2 separate regions of the Homo sapiens genome follow, and region 2 is linked to region 1. Evidence: fine-mapped expression QTL. A gene starts in region 1. The other region holds a variant in brackets. All regions are shown on one strand. Distances are between the middles of the regions.

Evidence for each region. PIP is the estimated chance that this variant, and not a neighbour inherited with it, causes the effect. A credible set is the group of variants that fine-mapping cannot tell apart.
Region 2: its variant is the best candidate, but not a certain one, in a credible set for the expression of CRYBB1 in whole blood (TOPMed, PIP 0.67).

Annotation. Positions count from the first base shown.
Region 1 is chr22:26,616,647-26,619,551 of GRCh38, reverse strand. CRYBB1 (crystallin beta B1) reads left to right here and starts at 1,525. Exons shown (of 6, transcript NM_001887.4): 1 at 1,525-1,575. It also overlaps a transcript of CRYBA4 not described here. RefSeq lists enhancers at 440-1,115, 1,794-2,471.
Region 2 is chr22:26,577,107-26,580,011 of GRCh38, reverse strand. All of the region lies in intron 1 of TPST2 (tyrosylprotein sulfotransferase 2), which reads left to right. Among named protein-coding and RNA genes, the nearest start is that of TPST2, 12 kb to the left of the region's middle. RefSeq lists enhancers at 1-238, 430-479 and a silencer at 210-289. The variant C/T (reference allele first, on the strand shown) is at 1,571.

The DNA of each region.
Region 1 (2,905 bases):
AAAGAAGAGACAGGAGCCTATCCAGATGCCCCCGCAATATACCCTGCCTGGGACTGGGGAGCCGACTGCAGGTGACCTAGCTGAGCAGCTCCCCAGGCTCCTTCTGACCCCAGCTGTACTGTGAGTTCCCGCCATGTGACTATGTTGAAGTCATTTGTTCCACCTGGGCCTCGGTTTCTCCATTTGTGAAATGGGAGGATTGGGCCCTGTGATTTCTGGCGTCTGTTCCTCCGTCCTGAGGCTTGATCACCCCAACTTGACCTCTGTCTCTCCGTCTCTCGCTCCTTCACTGTCCATGTCCCCTGTGCCTCTCTGTGTCTCTGTCTCCACCTCTCTCTTTGTCTGTTACTTCTATCTGCCTCCTTACTTCTCTCTCCTTGCCTTGGTTTCCCTATCTCCTCCGTACCCTACCTTCTGTTCCGATCCATTGGAACCACCATTGAGTCACCAGTTATTGACTGAGAACCCATGATGTGCCAAGCTCTACCTAGCCAGGCCCAGCTAGGTGCTGGGGCCAGTGGTGAACAAGATGTGGTGGGCATCTGGGGCTTGCCAGGGCAGGAGGCTCTGGGACAGGCAGTCATATTTCTGGCCACCAGCACTGTCCTCCAGGTCAGATAACGTGGCCTGGGTAGAGGCGGGGAACTGGGGTGGCGAGAGGGATCACTGTCGATAGGTCAGGAAAGGATGGGGCCCAATGTGGGGAAAAGAAAAAGACCCAGGTCTCCGATATCCAACCCAGCTGAGCACAGTGCGACTCTCCCATTCCCACCCCAACCTACAAAGAGGAAGTCAGGCCAGGGGGCCTCAGGCCAAGGTCAAGGCTGGACAGCAGGAGAAGAAAGCACACAGGCCCAGAGCTGGCTGGCCTGGGCTGGCTCTGACCTCTCTGTGCCTTCACTTTCCTCTTCTGTGAAATGGGCATAATGAAAGTACCAAATAAGGCAGATTGTCCCGGGGACTGACCGAGATAACACGGGTTCGGCACACAGTAAGCACTCCGTAAAAAAGGCTGTCCATATCAAACCCACATCTGCCTTTACAAAACGCTTCTGTGCTCATTGTCACCTTCTTTTCTATATGGCATCCAACAGGGACACGTGCCCACCTTATAATTGCAGACACAGAGGCCCCCCTAGGGGTAGAGACCTACCAAAAGCCACACAGCGCGCAGTGGCTGAGTCAGGATTCAAACTCTGGTCTCCTGCCTCCCAGGGTCTCCCCTTTTCCCTGCCCCATGTTGGCAGCCAGCAGGGACCCTTTTGGGGGCCCATCCCTGGCTGGGGTTGTTGAGAAAGGAGTCAGGGTAGGGTTGGAAGGTGAAGCTGCTGTGGCCAGGGTTTCTGCTGTGTGTGCTGGTCTCACAAAGGAAAGTGCTGCTGTCTGCAGTGATCCAGGCGAGGTCAGGGCCCCAGTCCCCCACTCCCTGCCCAGGCCTGCTGAGCCAGCTTCCCCTTTGTGCCACAGACTATAGGGCCTGATGTCTGCCAGACTATAAAATGGGGGGTCGGACTCTAGTCACCCATAGCACCTGCCCGCCTGCCTGTCCTCCAGCAGGAAGTAGCAAGTCCCCAGGTAAGAGGGAACCCACAGCCCAGCTGAGAGCTGAAGGGGAGGGGAAGAGAAAAGGGAGACAGAGAGAGGGAGGCAGAGATAGCAGTGCCATGAGAGTCAGAGAGCAGGGCCATGGAGATAAAGACGGAAGTGGAGAGAGGAAGAAAGGGAGGGAGAGGGAGAGGGGAGAGAGTGAGAAAAGACAGAAATAGAGAGAGAAGTAAATATAATTAAAAAGGACAGATAGAGAGATAAGCAAAGATACAATGAGGGAGAGATAGTGGGGGAGAGAGGAACAGAGAGGGAGAGAAACAGACAGGCAGATAGGCAGAAAGAGGGAGAGAAGTAAGAAACAGATAGAGAGGCAAAGACAGGGAAGAGAGGAGGAACAGAGGGAGAGGGTGAAGCAGGGAGAGAGAGAGAATGAGAATATCTCCAGGAAGGCATGAGTCCAGCTGCCAGCCCTGGGGGAGTGTTTAAAGCCACAGATGTGGTCCAGATGTCTGGCCTCACCCCTGGTGAACAGGGGGCACCCCAGAATATGCACAGCCTTCCTGGAGGAGGCTGGGGGAGGGATGTGCTTATCCCAACTAGCTCCGCCTTACAGAATGTGTTCGGGAATCAGCTTGACCAGAGGGTCTTAATCTGTGCTAGCAGGGGGTCCTCAAATCCCTTAACATTGTCTCCAAAGTTAAAGAGAGCATTATTTTTGTCCGGGGACAAAGTTGAGGTATTCATCAAACATTCAAAGGAGTCCACGACCCCAAAGCAACAAGGAACCACTGGAATTGACCAAAGCCCTCTCCACCCAAAGCCTACCCAGCCCCAGTCCTCATTTTCAGAACCCTCCACATGCAGTAAATACATCCTCTTGGGTCCTCCCATAAGCCTCAGTCCCCGGCCTGTATTTGCACCCATACACCAACCCCTCAGAGGAAGCAGACGGGGAAAGGAGCTGGGAGCATGCATTCATTCATTCTCTGAACAAATGTTAATTGGGCATCTCCTATGTGCCAGGTGCAGAGCAAGTGTTAGGGATGGACGGTGAATAAATCAGATTAAGCAAATGGCAGAATACTTTAAAAGCCCAGTTGCTGGCTCCATTTCCTTGAGTTGAAATCAGAGCCCTACCACTTAGTAGCTGTTTGGGCCTGAGCTGGGCCCCTTCCTTCTCCAGCCCCCTGCTGCTCAGAGGGGATCATGATAGCAGCTACTCCATCGGGTGAGGTTCATGGTCAGATGGGTTAATTAATGTATGTCACAGTGCCTGGCACACCTTAAGTACTCCCAAATGGGACTTCTTGTTATTAGTCTAGGGAGGCAAATTGGAGTTGCACAAGCAAATCAGTGT
Region 2 (2,905 bases), 40 kb after region 1:
CAGCCTCCCAAAGTACTGGGATTACAGACGTAAGCCTCTGTACCCAACTTGTCTTGGTTTCTATTTTTGTCTCCCTGCCTCTCTCTCCCTCCCACCCATCCCCCCAACTCACGTCTTTCCCTGTCTCTGTCACTCTTTCTGTCTTACTCCCATCTTTGCCTCTCCTCTGACTCTCTCTCCCCATCTACATCCTCTGTCTCTATCTCCCTCTGTCTCTGCCTCTGTCTGTTTTTTTCTCTCTCTGTCTTCTTCCGCCCCAATCTGCACCACTTCCCCCTTCCTTCCCGCTGCCGACCCCAAGCCCACACAGGTGCCAGCACGGCCCTTCCTTTCTCTCATTAAAAACTTTTCATCCCACTTGCTTTGGCTGGTGGCTGACATCCTGCCACAGAACCATCCGGACCCTTGCAGAGCCCGGGGGCTCAGCCAGAAACCTTTGGAGGTGTGAGAAAGTGGTAGTAGCTACTTCCCAGGTGGAAGACAGAGGCCCTGTGGAGTCAGGCACCTGGCAAGGCCGCCCTACAAGGCCATGGTTTCCTCTCAACCCACACCCTTTCCACGCCCCCAGGGCCCTCCCTTCCCCACCGGGCCCCAGGGCTGTGGGGAAGAAGAGGAAGCCTGGGCTAGCAGCAGGACGGCAGATGCTGTTTTTGGTTTGATTTGGTTTGGGGTACTGGGGGAGTGTCGGCTACCCTTCCTCTGAGCACTGCTGGAAGCTGCATGCAGTAGGTGCCTTTGCCCTTCATTCTGCTACGTGGTCATTCCTTGCTCAAGTGCACAGTAGACCAGCAGTGCATATTTGATGGCTAAGAGTTTTGGGAAGAAAAACAAGGTTAGAAACTGAGTCTTGCCTCCAGGCTGGGCACAGTGGCTCACACCCATAATCCCAGCACTCTGGGAGGCCAATGCGGGCGGATCACTTGCGTGAGCTCAGGGGTTCAAGACCAGCCTGAGCAACATGGCGAAACCCTGTCTCTACAAAAAAGTACAAAAATCAGCCGGGCATGGTGGTGCATGCTTTATTCCCAGCTACTTTGGAGGCTGAGGTGGGAGGATTGCTTGAGCCTGGGAGGTCAAGGCTGCAGTGAGCCAAGATCACGCCACTGCACTCTAGCCTGGGTGACAGAGTGAGACCCCGTCTCAAAAAAAAAAAAAAAAGAAAGAAAGAAATAGGGTCCAGCTTTTTCTTTTCACAGATGGGGAAACTGAGGCCCAGAGAGTTGAGGTAACTTGTTCTGGATCATGCAAATAGCTTGGAAATAATGGGGTCTGGGTCTTCCATGCCTCAGAAACTGGGAACAGTGCACCCCTGTGTTGAGCTGGTGGCTGCTTTGACATCCCTCAGCGGTTGTTGTGTAGACACCGACTTCTGAGAGATGGGAGATTCTGGTTCGAGGCCTGGTTTGCTCTCCTCTACCTACTGCGGGACTCTGGGCAAAATCTTCCTTCTCTGAGGACCTTGGGGTCCCCAGGCATAGTCCCCATGGCACAGTCCTGAGGATCGCAGAGCGTGGTCAGGTTTGCAGGGTCGGAGGTTGCTGACCTCACCGTGGATGGAGGGCTTCTTCAA[C/T]ACAGGTTGCTGTACCCCACTTCCAGAGTTCCCATTCAGCGTGGTCTCCTTGAGCCCTGATAATCTGCATTTTGTGTAGGTTCCTAAGCGCTGTTCCTGCTGGTCAGAGAACCCACGTTGAGAGCTGGGGTAGTAGAGGTGCAGCAGACGAAGCACACGGGCGCTAAAACCTGCTGTGAGATCTCAGGCAACGACTTCACCTTTCTGTGCCTTGGCTTCCTCAGCTGTAAAATGGAATGACAGAGCACTGTCCTCATAGATTAGTTGTGAGGATTAAATGAGCGATTGGGAGGCGGAGATGCGCGGATCACCTGAGGTCAGGAGTTCAAGACCAGCCTATATAATTGATTTTAATTGAAATTCCTTTTGGTAATTCTTAAAGATAATAATACATTTTGATGTTTACTCATGAACATTACTGATATTCCTTCCTCCAGCTACATGATAATGTTTTCTCTCCTGTGGGTGAGATCTAAGAAATGAAACTCGGCCAGGCATGGTGGCTAATGCCTGTAATCCTAGCACTTTAGGAGGTCTAGACCTCCTCCTGAGGTCAGGAGTTTGAGACCAGCCTGGCCAACATGGTGAAACCCCATTTCTACTAAAAATACAAAAATTAGCCAGGCATGGTGGCTCAAGCCTGTAATCCCAGCTACTCAGGAGGCTGAGGCAGGAGAATCACTTGAACCTGGGAGATGGAGGTTGCAGTGAGCCGAGCTTGTGCCACTGCATTCCAGCCTGGGTGGCAGACAGAGTGAGACTCTGTCTCAAAAAAAAAAAAAAAAAAAAAAATGGCCGGGTGCAGTGGCTCACACCTGTAATCCCAGCACTTTGGGAGGCCAAGGCGGGCAGATTACAAGGTCAGGAGTTCGAGACCATCCTGGCTAACACGGTGAAACCCCATCTCTACTAAAAAAATACAAAAAATTAGCTGGGCATGGTGGCACACACTTGTAGTCCCAGCTACTACTCGGGAGGATGAGGCAGGAGAATCGCTTGAACCTGGGAGGTGGAAGTTACAGTGAGCCAAGATAGTGCCACTACACTTCAGCCTGGGCGACAGAGCGAGACCTTGTCTCAAAAAAAAAAAGAGCAAATATTTGTAAAGTGTGTAGAAAACCCCCCAGGCACACAGTAAGCACTATATGCATGTTCACTTTTTTTTTTTTTTTTTTTAAAGACAGGGTTTTGCCCTGTCACCCAGGCTGGATTGCGGTGGCATGATCATAGCTTGCTGCAGCCTTGAATTCCTGGGCTCAAGTGATCTCACCCTCCCAAGTAGCAGGGACTACAAGTATGCACCACCACGCTTGGCTAATTTAATTTTCTTTTTTT